Homo sapiens: one gene and its partner. The protein of the gene in region 1 interacts with the protein of each later gene in a biochemical or structural test. Each region holds a gene or a part of one and is shown in the gene's direction. Other genes may lie near its edges. The genes, in order: RNF139 and UBE2J2.

Region 1 (12,135 bases):
AAGAGACACAATAATAGATCCTTTAAACTTTAACTTGCTGAGGTTTCCCGGTTCAAGGTCCTTGTGCTAGGAGACCAGCAGGCAAGGAAGAGTCACCATGTTAGTTGGGGTAAATGAATCCAATCATCAGGAGGAAATAGCGTTATTGCTACACGATGATGGCAGGAAGGAATATACCTGTAGTTTACACTCAAGACCATATAGTGGTCTCTTGATATGTCCCAATATCAAGTAAAGTGGACAACTTCCAAAACAGCAGGGTAAACATCTCCAAATACTGGCTTCTCTATAAAAGCAATGAGAACACAGGCAAAAATGGTCAGTCAACTTTTTCAGAACTCTAGAAAGTAACTAAAAGCTTGAAATAATCTGAGGTGCCTCTATTTGAGAAAAACAGCTAAATCTTGGTAAACAGGGAAGCATTTTAACTTGCCTTATTCCCAGCCCCCACCTCTTAATACAATGATAAATAGTAATGGTGACAGTGAGCAACCTTCTTACTCTTAACTTTAGGGAGAATGCTTCCAGCATGTTTCACCATTAAGTGATATGCTGTCCTTTGTTAAGCAGTATCCAGAGTCCTATTATATTGTTGGCTTATCATGTTTCCCACTGCACTCTAGTGTCACTTTTCTAATGAATCAAGTGACCCTATATGTGTGGAGTTTTTCTAGACTTTCTGTTCTGTTCTGTTCCATGGGTCAGTTTTTCTATCCATGCACCAATACTATCTCGTCTTCATTACTATAGCTTAGAATAGGTCCTGATGTCTCACAGTATAAATCCTTCAACTTTGTTTTTTAAGACTGCCTTAGGTATTCTTGACCTTTTCCAGTTTCTTAGGAATTTTAAAATTGGCTTTTTGATTTTTGGAAAAAAGAACCTGCTGAGATTTTTTTTTAATTGAGATTACATAGAATATATAGGTCAACATCTTTACAATACTGAATCTTCCATCTTGAAGTTTTATTATATCCAGTTGGGTGTAACTGTGAAATGAGAAGCAATTATCAGAAACCCGGATTACAGGATCCCACCTAAGGTGAAAGGTCCTATACTTCCCATCAGTGGGATACTATAGCCATCTTCTCTGGGCTCTCTGCTTTGACAGATGTTTTCAACTTAAGTATTACCTGTATTCTTCCTCTCAGCAGTATCTCAGTCCTCAGATTATGCTTGACCGTCACCGAAGATGAACATATTTTATCATTCACTCATATTCTAATGTAAATTAAGTCCTACTTATTTCATACAATAATTCGAACTAATATCTTCACAGCACTCCTGAGTCATAAATGGAGTCACTGCAAAGTGCTGTGCACTGCAAAGTGCTGTGTGTAGTAACAGGGGTTCCAATGAGTGTATCTCCTACAATTGGTTTACTACATGCTATACTAGGTATTTAAGATGTATTGCTTTAATTCTTGTAAAAAAGCAAGAGAACATACTTGCAGAGGATCAGATCTTAGGCTCTGGAATCAGAAAAATATGAATCAGAAACCTGGCTCTGCCACTACTATTGACTGATTAGTTCTGTGTCCTTGGACAAGTTTGGTGAGGGCTAAATTGGATAGTGCATGTCATGTATTTCATATCTTATGTGGCAATATTCTTTTCCCCAAATGATACTAAAGATTAGACAGCTTAAATACTTTGCCTCAAGACACAGAACTAGAAAGAGGCAGAAGAGGGCTAGCATACTGCCAAGCACATAGAAAGTATTCAGTAAATGTCTGCTGAATGAACAAACCACAGTCAGTATATACTCAACATTTACTTCAAATACCACTATATTCTCTGTTGTTTCCTTTAACTTATGCAACAAACTTAAAATATTTTTTATTTCCATAGGTTTTTGGGGAACAGGTAGTATTTGGTTTCACAGGTAAGTTCTTTAGTGGTGATTTGTGAGATTTTGGTCTACCCATCACCCAAGCAGTATACACTGAACCCAATTTGTAGTCTTTTATCCCTTACCCTCTTCCCACCCTTTCCCCGAGTCCCCAAATTCTATCATGTCATTCTTATGCCTTTGCATTTTCATAGCTTAGCTCCCACTTATGAGAACATATGATATTTGGTTTTCCATTCCTGAGTTACTTCACCTAGAATAATAGTCTCCTATCTCATTCAGGTCGCTGCGAATGCCATTAATTCATTCCTTTTTATGGCTGAGTAGTATTCTGTCATATATTTATACCACAGTTTCTTTATCCACTCATTGATTGATAGGCATTTGGGTTGGTTCCACATTTTTGCAATTACGAAGTGTGCTGCTATAAACATGCATGTCCAAGTATCTTTTTCATGTAATGACTTCTTTTCCTCTGGGTAGATAACCCAGTAGTGGGAATCCTGGATCAAATGGTAATTCTAGTTTTAGTTCTTTAAGGAGTCTCCACACTGTTTTCCATAGTGGTTGTACTAGTTTACATTCCCACTTCTACATACACAGCAGTGTAGAAGTAGCAAAAACAAACTCTTACTATTTATTTGGCATCTACAAAACCAGAAAATTCAAATAGAATTTTGATGGGCACATCTGAATTTACTTTAATGAGAAGAGAAAAACCATAAAGTAATTTAGGATAAGAGATCAATTGCAGTAATTCCCAGGGTCTGAGAAAAAGTTATGGCATATATTTTCACCATCAATCCTACTTGCTTTGGTTGGAATGTGTCCCCCAAATTGCATGCATTGGAAACTTAATCCCCAATATGGCAGTACTGAAAGGTGGGGCCTTTAAGAAGTGATTGGGTCATGAGGGCTGGTGATCCATTCATGGACTAATGGGTTGATAGATTAATGGGTTACTATAAGAGTGGGATTGGTGGCTTTTTTTTTTTTTTTTTTTTTTTGAGACAGACTCTTGCTCTGTTGCCCAGGCTGGAGTGCAGTGGTGTGATCTCGGCTTACTGCAACCTCTGCCTCCCTGGTTCAAGCGATTCTCCTGCCTCAGCCTCCCACCACGCCAGGCTAATTTTTTGTATTTTTAGTAGAGATGGGGTTTCACCACGTTGGCCAGGCTTGTCTCAAACTCCTGACCTTAGGTGATCCACCCACCTCGGCCTCCCAAAGTGCTGGGATTACAGGCGTGAGCCACCGTGCCTGGCCTGGGACTGGTGGCTTCATAAAAAGAGGAAGAAAGGCCTGAGTGGGCATGCTCAGCCCCCCTGATCCCTGCAGTCCCCACCAGCAACAAGATTCTCCCCAGATGTGGTCCCTCCACCTTGAAATTCTCAGCCTCCTCCCTAACTGCCAGAAATGAATTCCTTTTCTTTATAAATTACCCAGTTTCAGGCATTCTGTTATAAACCACAGAATACAGACTAGGACACTACCCTTCCTACCAGTATCCCTATCTTCCACTTGAAGAAAATACATATTAGTAGAAGTGGGGAGTGAAGGGGTTAAATCCAAGTGCATGTTTCCTACTGCCTCCTCCCACTACAGAAGCTAGGGTGCAGATACATGATCCAATAAGCTTGACCAATTGGATGGTGATGTAATTTGGATCTCCCCTGCAAATCTCATGTTGAGATGTAATTCCCAGTTAGAGGTAGGGCCTGGTGGTGTTTGGGTCATGGGGACTGATCCCTGATGGCTTGGTGTTGTCCTCACCATAGTGAGTTCTCATGAGATCTGATTGTTTAAAAGTGTGTGACACCTATCCCCACCCCCTCGCTCCTGTTTTTGCCATGTGAAGTGCCTGATCCTACTTCACCTTCCACCATGAGCAAAAGCTTCCTGAGGCCTCCCCAGAAGCAGATGCAGGCACTAGGTTTCCTGTACAGCCTGTAGAACCGTGAGCCAATTAAACTTCTTTTCTTATAAATTACTCAGCCTCAGGTACTTATAGCAATGCAAGAATGGCCTAATATAGGTGGTCTCTCCTGGGACTTGAAATCTTGAGGAATAATGAAAATAACCCCTTAATAAATTCCCTTTTTGCTTAAGATAACCCAGAAGAATCAGTTTCTGTTGTAGGAAACAAAGACTTCATTAATGCAAATGTCAAGAGAAAATTCAAACTAGTTTTTACACATCCTACCTGTAAAAGTTTTGAAAGCTACTAAAAGGCTTTCTGAGCTGTTAAATCTGAAGGATTTATAACAGATTGTTATTTTCAAACACGAGTATTCTATGTATACAGTTTGTGTGTGTGTGTATTCACACACACACACACACACACTCATGAACCACACTGTGCAGACTCAATATAAATGTACACCTGAGTTGTGCAACATTCAAATCAATGCAGAAATCAAGCAAAGATTAGATTCAGTGAATTGTAGCTATTTCTTGGAAACATTACCTTTTTTTTGAGACAGGGTCTCACTCTGTCACCCAGGCTAGAGTACAGTGGCGTGATCTTGGCTCACTGCAACCTCTGCTACCCAGGCTCAAGGCAGGCTCAAGTGATCCTCCCACCTCAGCCTCCTGAGCAGCTGGTACCACAGGCCTATGCCACCATGCCCAGCTATTTTTTTTTCCCCCAAGACAGAGTCTCACTCTGTCACCCAGGCTGCAGTGCAGTGGCGCCATCCTGGCTCACTGCAACCTCCGCCTCTCGGGTTTAAGCAATTCTCCTGCCTCAGCCTCCCAAGTAGTTGGGATTACAGGTGCCCACCATCACACCCGGCTAATTTTTGTATATTTAATAGACATGGGGGTTTTACCATGTCGGCCAGGCTGATCTCGAACTCCTGACCTTGTGATCCGCCCGCCTCGGCCTCTCAAAGTGCTGGAATTACAGGTGTGAGCCACCGCGCCCAGCCCACATCCAGCTATTTTTACAATTTTTTTGTAAAGATATAGTTTTGCCTTGTTGGACAGGCTCGTCTTGAACTTCTGGCTCAAGCAATCCACCCTCCTTGGCCTCCCAAAGTGCCGGGATTTCAGGCATAAGCCACCACACCCAGCTGGAAACATCTTTTATCTTAAAAATTCCTAAGCATCCTATAAATTACCTCATTACTATAAATTTAATTTTAACGTAGTATTTTAACACAGTTGCCAGGACCTCATTCAAACCTTCATTTTATAGATGGAGAAAGAGAGCTCACACAGGGGTGTCCAAGGGAGATAATACAGTCATGGGTTCTTAGTTTCCGCTTCTGGTTGGGTCAGTAAATACCTCCTCATCTCTCTTTTCCGCTTATCACTAGAAACAGAAACTAAAAACCATGGCTTCAGGCTGTTAACAGCCTAAAACAAAACAGAACAACAACAGTAACAAAATAAGGTGGGTTGGACAAGTTTGGCAGAGAGCCTGCTTGGAGAAGCTGTGTGAAAAAAAAAAAAGACTGCCACCGCTCCTGAAAGTTCTCGGCCCAAGATGGAATTTAGTCAAAGAAACTCTTACACTAATAAAATTTGTACATCAAATTAAGATCAGGGACAGTTAAAACATTAATAAAGACTGAAGCATTTGTTCATTTAAAAAATTTTATTTAATATTTACATTTATTTTTAAAATAAAAATTAGAGGAAAGCCCATGAACTCATTTTCCATGAACATAATATAATAGTACTCACCTATCTCCTCTACCCAACTTGTGTTTTAGATGAGTCCTTTTGGATCTTTTTCCCCATAATGGCCTCTCTCCTTTTGCTTTACAGTGCAATCAGGGCAGAATAACAGATATGTTGAGTAGCTAATTTATATTTCTGAAGATCTCCATAGAACTCTTAAGTTCTAAGTCTTCATAGTCTTTGCACCTTGCCAAGTTTGCTTTCCTTTGGGAATTCTGTCATAACCACAAGGTTATTCCCCAGACATGCAGTTTGGGGAAATTAACCCGGCAGTAGTAAACAGACTGGATTAGAAAAGGTGGCAGTCGTAATAAGGATATTCCAATAACCGGGGAAAGCTACAGAAGGATCTTGAGTTAGGATGATGACAGTTACAATAGAAAGGAGACCAGTACAAGAGACGGTGAAAACAGAATGGATACAATTTAGTTGAAGAATTGGCTGTGGGTGAAAAGAAGAAATCAAAGATGCCTGAAGTTGTGAGTTTCAGGTAGCCCTGAGTTTATAATCCTAGTTCTGACTCGTACTATCTTTGGATATACTAGCTGCTGACTACTAACTGAACAAGGTAGTAACCTTGTCATCTTGTAACTTACCTAAGTCTGTTTCCTCCTCTATAAAACAAACTATCAAAATAAAGCCGATGAAAAGATTGAAGTAAAACATAAAACCCTTAGCACAGTGCCTAGTATCCATTAAGCAGTAGATAAATGATGGCGGTCATTATTAGGGAGTAGGGTAAAGAACAGAAGGTTAAAAACATGAGTAGCAGTAAGGACTTTTGGGTGGGGATTCGGTCTTTCTACTACACATTACACATACCTCTAAGCAGAGAAAGGGGTTGGAGGGGAGTTTGATAATGTGACTAATAATCCTCCTCCCCCTGGGGGGGATCTTGATAAAGGATAGCCACCCACATGGAGGCCTAATATAAACTGGATTGCAGAATGCACTTGAGCTGGGAGCCCAAGCGGGCCAGGCTTCTTGATTCCTATTTTATCCCCTTTAACCTAGGATAGCTAGGTCTATAGTGCAGACTCAGACCTAACTTACACTTTCATTTGCAGCTGAAGTTTCGGAACAAAGACAAAGATAGCCAGATCATATTAATTACACGGATAGGCAAGAAAGCATGAGCCCTGAGGAGGAAGGAAGGGACTGTCCAGGTGTACTTACCTCAAAGATGAGAAATATCAAAGACAGGAAACCCTAGGTTCTTGCCCTTCAGTCGCTATCTCCTTGCCATTAGTAAAATGCGGCCGATGAATGTCCTCACTTCTGTCCATCTGGGCAGGAGGTGGGAAGGGTGACGTGCAAATGGATGGGAGGAACCCTTTTTTCGGCAGCACCCACCACACCCAGCCTAGTGCCACGCACCGCAAGCGCTCCATAAACGCACACAGCGTCGCCTCTACCAGGATCCCGGGCGGCCTTCGCGGGATTTCTCCTGGCGTCGGCTTTCAGACTCCCGAGGGTGGGATAAATCGAGAGGGTGGCATCCTTTGGCTTTTCTTCTCCCAGGCAGCTCTGAACCATGTTTATGCAACGTTTAATGGGCTCTAATAAAACGGCTAATAATTTTGATCCGCGGAAGCACCGACTCGCTCGCTAAGCCGAATCTGCGAGGGTGAAGCTGCAACTCCAACGCCGGAAAGCGCGGCTACCGAAAAGCGCATGCGCCACGGGGTGGCACGAAGCTAGAGTAAGCTGAGGAGGTGGGCGGAAACCATGGCAACCATGGGTGATGACGACATGGGGAGCGTCTCTAGCGCTGGATTATGACGCTGGATTATGACGCAGGCAGTGGGCGCGGACTCTGCGGTTCGCTTGACTGACGGCGCAGCCTCCGGGCCTAGCCACAGCAGCAACGGCAGAGGCCAGCGGGCGAGGTCAAGATGGTGGCTCCGCGGGCGGGGGAGGCAGTGGAGGGAGGAGGAGTCAGACCTTAGCCAGCCGGAAACACCGAAACCCAGAGACCTCCTGGGGAGCCGCCGCCGCCGCCCTCTCGGCCATCGCTGCCTCCGCCGCCTGCTCCACCTCGAGGGACGCGAGCGGGCGGCGGGGCTGGCCGTGAGAGAGACAGGAGAGGAAGGAGGGCAGGGGCGGAGTTGCCCGCCTTAGCCCCCGCCCCCGGCCGCGGCCCCGGGCCCTGCCCCGCGCGGCCCTGCCCGGCCCACCGAGCCCTGGTGTGGCAGCGGCTCATGGCGGCCGTGGGGCCCCCGCAGCAGCAGGTGCGGATGGCCCATCAGCAGGTCTGGGCGGCGCTCGAAGTGGCGCTCCGGGTGCCCTGCCTTTACATCATCGACGCCATCTTCAACTCCTACCCGGATTCCAGCCAAAGCCGGTTCTGCATCGTGCTCCAGATCTTCCTCCGGCTCTTTGGTAAGGGAACAGGGTACCGTACGTCCCGGGACGGCTATGCGGGCCGAGACGTTCCCCGGGGAGCGGGCAGGCGCGCAGAGGCCATGGGTCGAGTATGTGTCTTTGGGAACTACAGTTTCATCCCTCAAAGGGTCGTCTTTACGGGTTGGGAGGGGGAAGGAGATGATACTTGTCTGAGTTGACAGCGGAGCAGTCCCCCTAGCGAGGATTCAGTGTTGTACCTGAGTGAGGTGGGGAGAAAGTAAGGATGTGTGAGCATGCAGCTCTTTGCCCGTTTGCCTTGGGAAATGAGTACTGGCTTACCGCGTCCTATGCGACAGCCTTCGAAAAACAACTCTGCTATCCCAGTCTCGTCGTGTGTGACCTTGGACTTCTGCCAAGGCGTGGGCCTCAGTTTCCCTTTATTACCAAATGCCGAGTACTTGTATGTTGTCACTTCTGCTGCACCCGAGGGTCCACAGGATCGTGAAGTGTCTGCAGTAAATGACATCCAAGCGAAGGAGACAGGGTTTTGAATGTCAGACCTTGAAACCATTACCAAAAATTCTCATGAAAGCGGCGATGCTTAAATCGAGTCCTAAAATTTTCCATGAATAAACGAGAAGGTATTGAAAGTGACTGTAAAAAGTGATGAGACATTTGCCAAAGAGACTTCTGAAAATCATTGTCTTTGTTTCGTATGGATGGAGTGTTAAAAGTATCTTATATTTCATTTCTTCCTTTCCATCTTCACTTACATCATCAGAGGGAGATGCATTTATGCGTAAAATAATTTTTTAAGTAATTGTAACTTGGCAAATTTTGTTGATGAGGTAATTCTGGTGATCGGTCTTAAGTAGGCTAGTGCTTTTGAAGTGTTGCTGAGGGCAGACTGATGGTGAGGTCTTTACCAAGCCTTTCTGAATTACAAGCCATCTGTTGCTTTATTCCTTCAAAAGAGGAGTGGCAATAAAGGCCGAATTTTGTTCTTAGCAATAAATAGCCATATTTTACATTTATCTGGTATTTTCCTTTTGCAAAGCATTTTCACTGGTAGGTATTATCTAACCTAACCTTCAAACATCCCCCAGAGGTGGGTGGTGGTATTGTCATTTTACAAACCAGGAAACAGGGTCATAGAGGTTAAGTGTTTTGCTCTTGGTAGGCTGCCGCTAAGTGGTTGCCAGAGCCTGAGCTTAAAAATCTTTTGACATTAAATATGGTTTACTTTCCTCCCTAACAGCTGCAATCCAGATACAGAATGCAGTAGTAATGATCATATGCTAGATCTTAAAACTAAAGATGTAAACGTGATGTTCAGCCCAAGCTGCTTCAGTAACCCACCTGCTACCTAATTCCAGCCTTTCCTACTTGCCACTGCTAACGTATACCACCACCATAATTTGTGTTAAAAACTGGGCTCTGTTTGAGAGGATTCTGCATGTTCATCCCAGAAACAGTGTAGTGACTGCTTTGAATATTCTTACAGCATGATAACTGCAGATTCTGTGAGAATCCCTTTGGGACCTGGTGCTTTAATGCAGTAGTCTGTTGAGCTTCAGGTTAGGCAGCTTCAAGGAAAAGAAGTATTTTCTTTAATTAAATAATTTGTAGTGTAAGAACATTGAACAAAGCAATCTGATATTTTCCTTGTACTAGGCATGTTTCTTTTGTAATAAATCTTGGAAGTTTGTGTTTGACAAAGAACAACATGACTTAAGGCAACTGCTCAGTGCTTTGGTTTCTTATTTTTACCTTTTAAAAGATGGAGAGTGAGGTTATCTGTTTCATAGGGTGTTAAAGACAATAAATCTATTTTAATGCTTCATTTAATACCATATTTTGTTAGATATTTTGGTCTTTTGAAATCATCGGCAAAATATTGGTGTTGTTTATTTGAAAATTTTGATCCCTGGAATCTCTGGATCAGACTTTGAGAAATACGAAATACTCTTCAAATCTATCATCCGACTCTTCTTACTGTGTCATGTAATTATGCTAATTTTTCACATTTGTAAGGATGATAAGAATGAAAAAAACTGATTTCGGTGCTAAAAAATTATGTTACTAAAAGACACAGGTTTGTGTGTAAATATGCCAATGGATAGTTGAAATTAATCGTTCTGCCTTGTTAGTTTTTTTGTAGTTGTAGACTTCTCAGTACTACTGTGTATAAGTCTTACCACTTGTCAACCTCACTTTTTTCTTTAAAATTAATGTGTAAAAATGGAAATCTCTAAGTAAAAAGCATTACCAGTTTTATGTGTGGTGGTAGAAGTATTTACTCCCCTCTACCTACAAAATGGTGCTACAACTGTACCTTCATTTGATATCAAACTAATTTGAGATTTCAACCGGTTAGAAAATAAAGCAACTCATTTTGGAGATCCAAATAAAATTCTATGACAATATATGGAATATTGAAGAACATAAAGCTGTGTTTTAAGGGATGTTAAATACTAAACGAAACTCAACCCAGAGCAGCATAATGCTGAGTTAGCAAATTTAAATCCAAGGCAGAAAATGCAAGCCTAGGAGTTTGTTTTAATAGTATTACTAATATGGTGATAATTCATTGAGGTGGGAAAAGGCTTTAAACATAACAGAAGACCCAGAAGTTCCAAGGAAAAATCTGAAAAATTTCAGTACATAAAAATAAAAAGCTTTTTTATGGCAAAGCTTAAAAAAGAATCCTTAAATGACAAACTGAGATAAAATACTTCTATCATAAGTGATTCACGTTCCAGTAAGAGTTTTACCCTGCCAGGGAAGCTGAGGCAGGAGAATCGCTTGAACCAGGGAGTTGCAGGTTGCAGTGAGCCGAGATCGCTCCACTGCACTCCAGCCTGGGGATAGAGTGAGACTCTGTCTAAAAAAAAAAACAAAACAAAACAAGAAAAAACTTATACTCCCTTAGGAAAATGCCTAAGACAAGCAATTCACAATAAACAAAATGCAGATGTTCAATAAGCAAGAGAAAAAGTATTTAGCCCTTCCTGCAGTAGCTTGATTTTATGGGGGAAAAAAAAAAGTACCTAGCCTTGTTTATAATTAAATACTGTCAAGACCGCTTACGGTGGCTCACGCCTATAATCCCAGCACTTTGGGAGGCTGAGGCAGGCAGATTGCTTGAGGCCAGGAGTTTGACACCAGCTTGGCCAAATGGCACAACCCGTGTCTACCAAAAAATTAGCCGGGTGCAGTGACTCCTGCCCATAGTCCCAGCTACTGTGGAGGCTGAGGCACGAGAATCTCTCGAATCGGGGAGGTGGAGGTTGCAGTGAGCCAAGATCGCGCCACTGCACTCCAGCCTGGGCGATAGAGCGAGACTGTCTCAAAAAAAAAAAAAAAGTCAAAAAAAATTTATCAGATTGGTGAAGAGTTCAAAGTTTTATTAGTTTTGCAAAGGTATTTACCTTTTTGAAATAGGTAAATTTATACAATTTTGGAAGACTTTTTTTTTTTTTTGAGACGGAGTTTGCTCTTGTTGCCCAGGCCGGAGTGCAATGGCGTGATCTCGGCTCACCACAACTTCCACCTCCCAGGTTCGGGCGATTCTCCGGCCTCAGCCTCCCGAGTAGCTAGGATGATTACAGGCAAGCGCCACCACCCCCGGCAAATTTTTTTCTATTTTTAGTAGAGACAGGTTTTCTCCATGTTGGTCAGGCTGTTCTCCAACTCCCGACCTCAGGTGATCTGCCCACATCGTCCTCCCAGAGTGCTGGGATTACAGGCGTGAGCCACCGTGCCTGGCCCGGAAGACTCTTAATTTCAGTGTAAAACCATTTGGCAGTATCAACTGTCATTTACAACTGACTTCTCAGTGTTTTGTTTTGTTTTTGAGACAGTCTCACTCTGTCACCAAGGCTGGAGTGCAGTGGCGTGATCTCAGCACACTGCAACCTCCACCTCCCAGGTTCAAGCGATTCTCCTGCCTCAGCCTCCCAAGTAGCTGGGATGCCTGGCTCGTACAACTTTTGACTCACAATTTCAATTCTAGGGAATTGGCCTAGAGAGATAGTTTGCTTAAGGACTATGGGCAAGCATTACTGGAAATAACAAAGCAACAAACTTAATCTAAATATGTATTGATACAAATCTGTTCATTGTATTAGGTCTAGCCATGCAATAAAGTTCTTGAAAGAAATGAGATAGCTATTTTTGGTGCCGAAAAAGACTTCAGAAAACCTCTGAAGTGAAAAAACAAAGCCGAAGTAATTATCACTGGCAGAGGAATA
Region 2 (11,439 bases), on another chromosome or scaffold:
GAGCTGGTCACTCTGTGTTTTGAGTCCTCTCGGAGGTGTTGGACTTCTAGAGAGAGAAACAGAGACACGTAAGAGGGCGAAGATGCCTCAGTGGTGACACACTGGGGAGTCCCGCCCACGACCCGTCCACGACCGGCACACTCAACCTGCTCCACGGAACCCCATTCCACAGCTCGGTTCCTCTGCGCCCCACCTGCTCCACGGAACCCCAGTTCCTCCATACTCAACCTGCTCCACGGAACCCCAGGCCACAGCTCAGTTCCTCCGCGCCCCACCTGCTCCATGGAACCCCAGGCCACAGCTCGGTTCCTTTCAAGAAAAAAAAAAGTGGGAAATAAATAATGTAAGCCTCAGCAAAGACAAGAGGGCGACCTCCTTCCAGGCACCCCGCTGGTTTCAGGCGCCTCTACCTGCAAGTGTTGGTATAAAACTGAACATGTCGCGGGCATGCTGGGTTTCCTAGTGCCCCAGCTGGTTCCATATTATGGTCTTTTGGGGCACATTTTAAACTGATGGGCAAATTCCATCCAGGAAAAATTCAGAGCCCAAAGGTCAGCCTGCAACTACAGAACCATAGAGTTCCTGGCCAGGCGCAGTGGCTCACGCCTGTAATCCCAGCACTTTTGGAGGCCAAGGCGGGCGGATCACCTGAGGTCAGGAGTTCGAGACCAGCCTGACCGACAGAGTGAAACCCCATCACTACTAAAAATACAAAAATGAGCCGAGCGTGGTGGCATGCACCTGTAATCCCAGCTACTTGGGAGGCTTAGGCAGGAGAATAGCTTGAATCTAGAAGGCGGAGGTTGCAGTGAGCTGAGATCGTGCCATTGCACCCCAGCCAGGGCTGCAAGAACAAAACTCTGTTTCAAAAAAAAAAAAAAAAAAGAACTATAGAGTTCCTAAGTTCTCTATCTCTCTGTTTCCTTTGCTGCCTGCCTTAAAGCTGCTGTTACACTTTTTGTTTTTTTTAGGTAGAGTCTCACTGTGTTGCCCAGGCTAGAGTGCAGGGGTGCGATCTCGGCGCACTGCAAACTCTGCCTCCTGGGTTCAAACGATTCTCCTGCCTCAGCCTTCCAAGTAGCCAGGATTACAGGTGTGCGCCACCACGCCTGGCTAGTTTTTGTAAATTTAGTAGAGACGTGGTTTCACCATGTTGGCCAGGCTGGTCTTGAACTCCTGGCCTGAGGCAATCCACTCACCTTGGCCTCCCAAAGTGCTGGGATTACAGTTGTGAGCCACCGTGCCTGACCAGCTGTTACTTTTCTACTGAGATGACATCCACAGTTTGCATCTAGATGTTTCTTTCTGTTATTGTTTTTCTAACTAGTGACTTTGTGTTGATATGTCATGGTTAGAGGTGTAAAGCAAAAGCTGTAGGGTTTTTGGATGAGTGTATATGTGTGTTTAGATGTGTTTATGTGTACGTGCGTGGATTCTGATACATGTTTTGTGGCCACAAGGTATCAAAGTGGCTTAAGGAGTATGCATACATTTAGTACATAATAACAAATTTCATGTGACTTAAGTAAAAAATTTTTTTTTTTTTGAGACGGAGTCTCGCTCTGTCCCCCAGGCTGGAGTGCGGTGGTGCGATCTGGGCTCACTGCAAGCTCTGCCTTCTGGGTTCAGGCCATTCTCCTGCCTCAGCCTCCCGAGTAGCTGGGACTACAGGCGCCCGCTACCACGCCCGGCTAATTTTTTGTATATTTTAGTAGAGACGGGGTTTCACCATGTTAGCCAGGACGGTCTCCATCTCCTGACCTCGTGATGTACCTGCCTCGGCCTCCCAAAGTGCTGGGATTACAGGCGTGAGCCACCGTGCCCGGCCAAAAGTATTGGTAAAGTAATATAAGGAGTGTCTTAAAAACTGTCAGCATACATTTTTGTTTGCATTTATTGATTTATAAGGGGTCAAAACTTGGCATAAGCATTGTAAAACTCTAAACCCAGCTGAAGGCCAGGCATGGGGACTCACACCTGTAATCCCAGAACTTTGGGAGGCCGAGGCAGGTAGATCACCTGAGATCAGGAATTGGAGACCAGCCTGGCCAACATGGCAAAACCCCGTCTCTACTGAAAAATACAAAAATTAGCCAGGTGTGGTAGCACATGCCTGTAATCCCAGCTACTTGGGAAGCTGAGGCCGGAGAATCACTTGGACCTGGGAGGGGGAGGTTGCAGTGAGCCGAGATTGCACCATCGCACTCCAGCCTGGGCGACAGAGTGAGACTCCATCTAAAAAAAAAAAAATTATAGGAAAACGTTCTTTCTACAAAAATTCTTATTATAAGGTAAATAATTTTGTCTAATTCAAAGCTTATTTAAAGTTTATGTATAAAATGAGTTAAAAAGAACAAGGAAATAAGAGAGACCAAGGAAAGTTATAGATATAAAGAGGTCTTTTTGTTAAGTAAGGTTAAAAAAAATAATTTTATATGAGAAAGAATCTTGTATGGTAAATTTTTGTCCTTAAATAAATGACTGGTTGTTTAAAAAAAGGGATGTTCAGCACAAACTAGAAAGTCCACATGTCGTGAACGGTCTGTGTAAGCTGCAATACCTTTGGTAAAAAAGGAATTTATAAAAATGTTACATGATAGATCGGGTGTGGTGGCTCATGCCTGCAATCCCAACACTTTGGGAGGCCAAGGAGGGCGGATCACTTGAGGTCAGGAGTTCAAGACCAGCCTGGCCAACATGGTGAAACCCTGTCTCTACAAAAATATAAAAATTAGCCAGGCATGGTGGTGCATGCCTGTAGTTCCAGCTGCTCAGGAGGCTGGGGCAGGAGACTCAATGGAACCTGGGAGGCGGAGGTTGCAGTGAGCCGAGATCATGCCACTGTACTCCAGCCTGGGCGACAGAGTGAGACTCCAACTTTAAAAAAAAAAATTGTTTTAAGAGGTAATGAATGCTGGTCCATGTCCATTCCTATCTGGCCTACAAAATTTAATGGGCTGTAAATCTTTTAACTGTAAGTCCCTGGGTCATAGGGAGTCAAACTGAGGGACAGGATTGACTGAGGGTGGGCAGCCACACTCGCCCAGCAACGCTGAGACACAATAAAGATTTGGTGGACATGGATGTTGCCTCTGGCAAATCTTGGCCAGAAGGGGGTGAATGTAAACCAAAAATTAAATTCTAAGGCCCCCCCAGCCGTCCAAATGGACCCTTCCTCTCAGCCAAGGGCGTTCCAGTGTTAACCTGGGAACTTGTTCAGGCCATGGCGGGAAGGGGTCGTGGGTCATGCCTCCTCCCTTTTGAAATTCAGGAAAAGCTGACTAGCATTAACATCAACACAGGCCTTAAGTCTGATAGGAAACATTAACAATCTATTCTCTCTGAAGCCGGCAACCCGAGGCTTCAGCTGCGTGGAAAACCACAACCCCTTACTGCAACCCAGACATTCCTTTCTATTGATAATAACTCTTTCAACCACTGTCGGTCAGGATCATTTTGAATCTGCCTATAACATAGAGGTCTCCCCACACCACCCCAATTTATCCTGCTCTTTCAGATTGAACCCGTGTAAATAAATCATGTCTCCCTAAAATGTATAAAAGCGAGCTGTGCCACATGCACCTTGGGCACCTCCCGAGATGTCATGGGTGTGTCCTTAACCTTGGCAAAACAAACTTTCTAAAGGGACTGAGACCTTCCTCAGTTTGCACCCTCCAGGCTGGGTTCTCTGTCCCTCAAGCATCCCCTGGCCAGACAATCCCTGCTGTTCAGAGGCAGCCAAGGCTTTCTGGTCCAACCCTGGGGGCTGGAGGAGGTGGGGGCAGGAGGTGGTAACTGGGTTGGGGGATGTTTTCTTGGTTGCCAAAGCAGAGGGTGCCCCCCGCTGCTCAAGATGCTGAGGGTGGTCCCTGTTGTCCTATTCCTGAAGCTGCCAGAGGAAGTCCCTCCGGAGGGCTGGCCCACAGCAGAAGGGCTGCTCCTGCCCTCAGAGGGCAATCTCAGGGTTGAGAAGGTTACAGCCACCATCTGCCACCAACCTAGCTGCTTGTGCCGATCCCACTGGCCAAGGCCATCGGCTCTATGGCTAGAGGCCTGGGCAGCCTGTGTCCTGCTTACCAGAAGGCCACAGATGCGGGTGGGTGGGGTGGTGGGGTCTTGGCAAGACGTGCTGGCCACACCTGTCCGGGGCACCTTCTCCCTGGGGTGTGACTCAGCCATGCTCCTGAGCAGGGGCCTCTGAGTTGAGCCTCGCTGCAGTCTTCCCAGCTGCAGGGCCCCCACAGGTGTGCTGTCATCGCACACTACTGAGGGACAGACAAGGCAGAGCGGGCCTCCATCTGCCGCGGGCCACAGCCGTGAGTGTGCATGCGAGTGGATGTGCTGGTGCCTGTATCTGCGGCCGGTGTGGCTTCCCTCACATAACTTTCCATGCTGTGAAAACAGTTTGGCCTGCCCTGCATGGGAACGGCAGAGGCCTGAGAGGAGGCAGAGGAAGGAGGCTGGATGCTGAGATGTTCTCCGAAGGTGGAGCCGGTGACGGCAGTAATGGAGGCAGGCTGGATTCCCACGGGCTGAGGCTGCGTGGACACTCCTCCTGGCTTCTGCCCCACGGCCTGCAGCAACGTCTCAGACCCACCAAGGTGTCCCAGAGGGCCAGAGTCAGGGCTGAGCATGGACACAGCCTGCCCTCTGCCCGTAGCCACAGCGGGACTGACCCTCAATATTCAGCCACCTTGCTGACCTGTGGTTGTTCCTGAGAGGCAGTCAGGGTTGGGGCAAAGGAGAGGGCCACAGGCAGCCAGGTGGCGAGGTCCACCTCCTGATCCCCCACCAGGGGACCACCCTCAGCTCCCCGCTGTCCTCAGCGGCCTCTCAGGGAGGCGGTGGGCTGCGCGCCTGCCCCCAGCGTCCCACCCCAGCGCCCCGCCACCTACCGCTCTCTCCCAATGTGTCTGGGGTCAGAGAGAGGTGGAGAGGACGCAGCGCCCCGCGCTTTCTGCAGTCTGTCCAAGGGGAGGTCAGGGGCATCCCGGGGCTGGGCAGGCACCTGCAGGGGAGGGTGCTGCGGCGCGGACGTGGGTTGCAAAGAGATGCCACGCGTGTCACTCTCGGGTCCCTGAACGAGAGAGCTCTGAGCTCCCTGGAGCCCAACCCTCCACTGAGCCTCCAGGGGCCCGGGACGCTCCATGCCCGGGCCGCGCCGCGCCTCCCCTAAGGGCCGGGTGGGGCGTGGGAGCGGAGGACAAGGCGGGAGCCGGGAGGCGGGAGGGTCGGGGTTCTTTCTCCACCGGGGTCGCCCTCAGCCGGGCCTGCCGCCCTGGGCCGTGGCACATGGGGAGGGAAGCGCGCGGCTTCGGGGTCTGGGGCTCTCGCGCCCACTAACGGTGCCCGGAGCCGCCCGCCAGTGCGCAAGCGCCGCCCCGCCCCCCGCCCCATCCCCCACCCCGGGGTCGACGGCGACAGAGAGTCGTGGGCGCGGTCCGCCAGTCTGCCTAGAGCGGCCAGCCCTCCCCCTCCCTCCTCACCGCCCCGGACCGCGCACCGGAAGCAGAAGCTAGGCTGGTTCCGCCCCGCGAGCGGCCATCTTGGAGGCTGAGGCGGCGGCGGCGGCGCTGCGGCGGGTTCGGTGGGCCCAATCCCGGGGCGGTGCGGCTGTTTCGGGCGCGGGCCCCGCTTTTCCGCACCCTGCTCCGGCCTCGACTACGGCGAGCCTGAGCGCGGCGGCGGCCCACGCGCAGCGACAGGGAGAGGTGAGCGCGCTCGCAGGCCTGCGCCGGGTCCTCGGGCCCGCTCGTCCCCCCTGCCGGAGCCGGCCACAGCGGCGGCCCGGGGCTGCTGGGGACCCTGCGCGACGCTTCTCCGTTCGCGCCCGCCGCCCGCGGGGCCCCGGCCCGAGCCTGCCTGCGCGGAACCCGAGGTCGGTTACGGCGGGCTCCCGGAGCTCCGGGTCAGGGTCATGTCGGGGACTTGACCACTCGGCCGGGTTTCCCGTCAGCTGGGACACTTGCAGCTGCCCCAGGACGGGCAGCCTCGATCCTGGTTCGTCAGTGGATCACGGGAGTCTGTGTCGGGGGAGGGCTGCCGTCGAGCCCGCCGTCGCCTCGCCCCTGAACTGTTAGACTCCAGACTGCCCCGTAAACCCCGAGAGAAACGAGCGTGCCCGGGACTGTGCTTAGGGCCAGCGTTTCTGGGAAACCCGGGCGGTGACAGTGGGAGACCACCGCCGGCCGGCGAGTGAGACACGAGCCCGGAACAAGTCTCTAAGCGGCGCCGGGCCTCGCCATCCACACCTGCCAGTTCCCTGCATCCTTTCAGCCCCTGGCCAGGTGTCACCTCCTGGCGTCCTTTTCAGTGCCTGCCACTTAGTGCGTGTGTATTTAACTCTAGTCCGGTTGCCATCCTCTTGCCAGACCCAGATAGGAAGCGGCTGAAAGGTCGGGCCTCAGCCCGGTGGGAGGTGGGCAGCGAAGAGTGTACAGCGGGCTTGGCTGGGGCAGGTCGGTGGCCCCGCGCCCTGCTCCAGGGGAACCAGACTGTGTAATCTGGCTTCCGAAGAAAGGATCGTGAGTATCTCGCTTAGTCTAGCACCTGAGCCTAGGGCGTGGTTGGGTCTGGGTGCCCGGAACTTGCAGTCCGTCATCTGCACGGCCTGGCACCGCTGACCTCCTTAGCAGTTCCACTCTCGGCAGGGATGTGCGTGAGTGACAGGCAGGTGAGCCAGGCAGGTAGGTGAGTGCTTGAGTGACAGGCAGGTGAGCCAGGCAGGTAGGTGCGTGGATGAGTGACAGGCAGGTGACCCAGGCAGGTGCATGTGTGAGTCGCAGGTGAGTGTCCCATTTCCATCGGCCCGGGCTTCCGTCCAGCCTCCGGAGCAGTCTGGTGGAGAAGGCAGAGACTTCCCTGGCAGTCCTGGACCTGGGTGTGCCATGCGCCTGGCCGATGGGTCAGGCCAAGGTTTCCTGCCACATCCCCTAAGCAGGAAAGAGCTGTCCAGACAAAGAGGGACGGGTGAGGGACGCTGGGCAGCCACTGCCTCAGCACCTGGGCACAGCTGCCCTCGGTGATTCACGCTGCTTTAATGCAGTTTCTGTGTGTGAACATTTTTTTTTCCTGTGCCTTTTTGTTTTAAAATCGCCAACTCTTTCTCTCAGCAGGATGATATGCTTGGTGTCCTTTGTCTGTGGGGATGTTTGAAGGGAACCCGAGGCACATATGCTTCAAACTCTGTTCTCACAGTTTGCTTCCTTTGTGGAATTTTTTTTTTTTGATACAGGGTCTCTGTTGGCCCAGCTAGAGTGCAGTGACATGATCTCAGTTCACTACAGCCTCCGGCTCCCGAGTTCAAGTAATTCTCCCACCTCAGCCTCCAGAGTAGCTGGGATTGCAGGTGCCCACCACCACACCCGGCTAATTTTTTTTTTTTTTTTTTTTTTTTTTTTTTGAGACGGAGTTTCGCTCTTGTTGCCCAGGCTGGAGTGCAATGGCTTGATCTTGGCCCACCACAGCCTCCACCTCCTGGATTCAAGTGATTCTCCTGCCTCAGTCACCCGAGTAGCTGGGATTACAGGCACATGCCACCATGCCTGATTAATTTTGTATTTTTAGTAGAGACGGGGTTTTACCATGTTGGTCAGGCTGGTCTCGAACCCCCGATCTCAGGTAATCTGCCTGCCTGGGCCTCCCAAAGTGTTGGGATTACAGGTGTGAGCCACCACGCCCAGCCCCTTTGTGAATTTTTGTTTTCCTTGTCCTTCCTGCTGTCATATTGGGATGAGAAGAATTGGGGGAAATAGCCCCCTGGCCTCCTGGGGGACGTGAGAATGCTGTTCTGTGTGAAGCTCAGGAAGAGTGGCTGGGGAAACAGCAGTTGAATCGTGAACATGATTTTAAAAGCCTCTCCAAGCAGGTATGGGAGAGAAGCTTGTTTGTGACTCATTGGATGGAATCTATTTTATTTTTGCGCGGCTGTCCATGAACTTTCGTTAAACCTGCGGCCTGGCCACTTAGCTAAGCCCAGACCCACCTGCACTTGAATTGTCCAGTGAATTATTTTGTATATGGCAGAGTGTTAGCTTCAGGGTGAGTGTCGAAAGGACAGCCTGTGTGGCGGTGCTGCTTGGGGTCATCACTGTGGCCATCACCAGGTGTTGGCCTGAGGGGAGATCCCTGGCCCATTGGCTTCTTTAGCCAGGAGCTGGGGATGCCACTGTGTGGAAGCACTTCCTTCCCAGGCAGGACTGTAACCCCATCCCTGGTGGGGGCCCTCCTGGGGAGGCACTCCTTAGGCAGAGGAACCCGCTGGGGCCCAGAAGGGCCCTGCGTTGTGTGTGGGGTCACATGGAGGCCAGTGATGTGTGACAGAGTGGGAGGCATTTGGCAGGGAAATCAGGGAGGCCTCTGAAGGCGGTGGCTCTGGCTATGCCGGGAAGGGCCTGGGGAGTTTCCAGTACAGGCTAGGCTGGGAAGCAGCTGTGAGAAGGAGTGTGTCGGTCAGGACTTTGGAGTGGGACCTGGGCCGTGCTGGGTCTTGGGAGTTGGGAACGAGGAGGGCTGGCTGGGGCTGCTCTGTCTTGGGAGCTGGGAATGAGGAGGGCTGGCTGGGGCTGCCTCTGTCAAGGGGCTGGCAGGCAAGAGGACGTGTTGATGTTTATTTGCTTGGCTGTGGAGTATCCTGAAGGGTGGATGGGGGAGTGGGTGATCGGAACAGTATGTTGACTTATGGGTACAGGAGGGCCTTGAAATGGGAAGAGACTAGAAGCTCAGACCTTCTGGACCCACGGGGGGAGTTGGGAGGCTCCTGTGGTGTTGATGGGAGAAGTGATGACATTTTGCGTTAGAGAAGATAATGAGAGTGGGAAGGCTGTGGTGAACAAGGATTGCAAGAGTCAGGGACCCCAGAACAAGAAGCAGGGTTGGGGGTGGTGCTGAGGCCACACATTTGGGAGCACGCGTTGGGTGCCCTGGCTGAGCTCTGCACTCCAGGCCCTGGGTGTGTGGGGTGAGCAGCCAAGCCCTGGCCATTGACATCCTCAGGTTGGGAGCAGACACTAAACAGGCTGCTGGTGGTGGTTCTCTGAGGAGGAATAAACCGGTTAGAGAGGCCAAGTCTGTAGATCTCTTGCAGGTGGAGACTGAAAGGAGGTGGAATGTGTGGCTGTCTACAGGTGTATGAGTTGGTTCTCATGCTGCTATAAAGATGTACCCGAGACTCAGTAATTTATAAAGAAAAGGGGTTTAATGGACTCACAGTTCCGTGTGGCCAGGGAGGCCTCAGGAAACTTACAATCATGGCGGAAGGGGAAGAGGCATGTCTCACATGGCAGCAGGCTAGAGAGAGCGGGCAAGAGCAGGGAACACTGCCTTATAAACCATCAGATCTCCTGAGAACTCGCTTTCACTGGAACGGCTTGGGGAAACTGCTCCCATGATCCAGTCACCTCCCACAAGGTCCCTCCCTCAACATGGGGGATTATGGGGATTACAAGTCAATATAAGATTTGGGTGGGGACATAGCCAAAGCATATCAGCAAGGAAACTGGGTAGAGTAGACTTCCGGTTTGTGGGAACTGGGAGGTCAGGATGGAGATCACTGGTCACTGTCCGTTATCGATGGCCACTGATGTCCACAGACGTTATTAAATCGTGTGGCCATGGCTGGGCGCGGGGACTCACGCCTGTAATCCCAGCACTTTGGGAGGCCGAGGTGGGCAGATTACCTGAGGTCAGGAGTTCGAGACCAGCCTGACCAACATGGTGAAACCCCGTCTCTACTAAAAATACAAAAAAAATTTGCTTGGCATGGTGGCAGGCACCTGTAATCCCAGCTACTTGAGTGGCTGAGGCAGGAGAATCACTTGAACCCAGGAGGCAGAGGTTGCAGTGAGCGGAGATCACACCACTGCACTCCAACCTGGGCAACGAACAGTGAGATTCTATCTCAAAAAAAAAAAAAAAATAAGGTTTGAGTTGGAGCTAGTCTGATGCAGCAGGGAGCCCTGTTTTCATCACCACCCCTCTCCCCAGTCTCAGGTGTGGCTGAGGGGCCTTGGGGTCCCTGATCCAGCCTCCTCTCTTGCATGATGATCACCACCCCTCTCCCCAGTCTCGGGTGTGGCTGAGGGGCTTTGGGGTCCCTGATCCAGCCTCCTCTCTTGCATGATGATCACCACCCCTCTCCCCAGTCTCGGGTGTGGCTGAGGGGCCTTGGGGTCCCTGATCCAGCCTCCTCTCTTGCATGATGATCACCACCCCTCTCCCCAGTCTCGGGTGTGGCTGAGGGGCCTTGGGGTCCCTGATCCAGCCTCCTCTCTTGCATGGTGCCTCGCGCCCCATGCTCGGCCTTCAGTGCTGTCTTGAACGTCCCAATGGAGCCACCAGAGTGACTTTCCTAACAGAAGATATGATCTGCCTTGAGGCTTGGACCCCAAACCCCTGTGGGGCCCGGGTTACCGTGGCTCCTGCCTGTGATTCCAGCACTTCCGGAGGCTGAGGCCTGAGAATCAGTTGAGGCCAGGAGTTTGAGACCACCTTGGGCAACATAGTGAGATCCCAGCTCTACAAAAAAAAAAAAATTAGCTAGGCGTGGTGGCATGCGTCTGTAGTCTCAGCTACTCAGGAGGCTGAGGTGGGAGGATTGCTTGAGCCGAGGTGGTCAAGGCCACAGTGACTCCAGCCTGGGCGACAGAGCAAGACCCTGTCTCACGAAAAATAAGTAAATAAACTCTTATGCCCTGGCCCTGCCTCCCTGGCCAGTCTTATCCCTGCCCTCACTGTGCTTGGGCCCTTGCACACTGCACTTTCTCAGGTGTGGCCTGTTCACCTGTGGCCCCTTCTACCAGGAAGACAGCTGCTCTGCCCAGTGAGTGCCTTGGAGTCTCCAGAGTCCTCGTCCCTCCAGCCGCAGAGGCTCCCCCGTTCTGCGGCTCGTTTTGCTTGTGGCTAGTGGTAAATGCTGGGCAGCGGGCTTCCGGGTGCGGTGAAGGGGCCGGCGGTGGTGCCTGCCCACTTCTATGGTGTGGATTCTCCATCAGTGCGGGGTCCTTGAGCTGAGTTGGAAGGTGCGAGTAGCTGCCCTCAGGAGCTGGTCTGAGGCTGTGGCCCGAATACCCCCTCAAGCCCTGTAAATGTATCCCTGCGTGAGTTTTTGGAGGACAGGAACGAGGCTTTGGGTTTCTCCTCGTCTTTGTACCTGAGCTGTACGTCGTGTCAATGAAGGTGGTGGCGGGACAGACGGGAAGAGAGAAGCCGCAGGGCCTCTGGGTGTCTGGGCGGGTGGCAAGCGAGGGTGACCTGTGAGCTGTGACTCTGGGTGACCGGGCCCTGAATGAATGGCGGGCTGCAGAGGCGGGAGTGGGGCTGCGCCAGGGGAGAGAGCTGTGGCCGGCGCTGCTTCTCGTCGTCAGTGTAGACGTTGCTTTTAACAGATGAGCAGCACCAGCAGTAAGAGGGCTCCGACCACGGCAACCCAGAGGCTGAAGC

Evidence for each region.
Region 2: the proteins of RNF139 (region 1) and UBE2J2 form a complex in vitro, tested with the Homo sapiens proteins (one study listed by BioGRID).

What each region holds. Positions count from the first base shown.
Region 1 is NC_000008.11:124,467,373-124,479,507, forward strand, and holds the start of RNF139 (E3 ubiquitin-protein ligase RNF139), read left to right. Parts: upstream 1-7,507; 5' UTR 7,508-7,737; coding exon 7,738-7,918; intron 7,919-12,135. UniProt on the Homo sapiens protein: E3-ubiquitin ligase; acts as a negative regulator of cell proliferation through mechanisms involving G2/M arrest and cell death.
Region 2 is NC_000001.11:1,267,938-1,279,376, reverse strand, and holds the start of UBE2J2 (ubiquitin-conjugating enzyme E2 J2), read left to right. Parts: upstream 1-5,522; 5' UTR 5,523-5,711; exon of another isoform or gene 5,712-6,524; intron 6,525-11,384; coding exon 11,385-11,439. UniProt on the Homo sapiens protein: Catalyzes the covalent attachment of ubiquitin to other proteins. Seems to function in the selective degradation of misfolded membrane proteins from the endoplasmic reticulum (ERAD).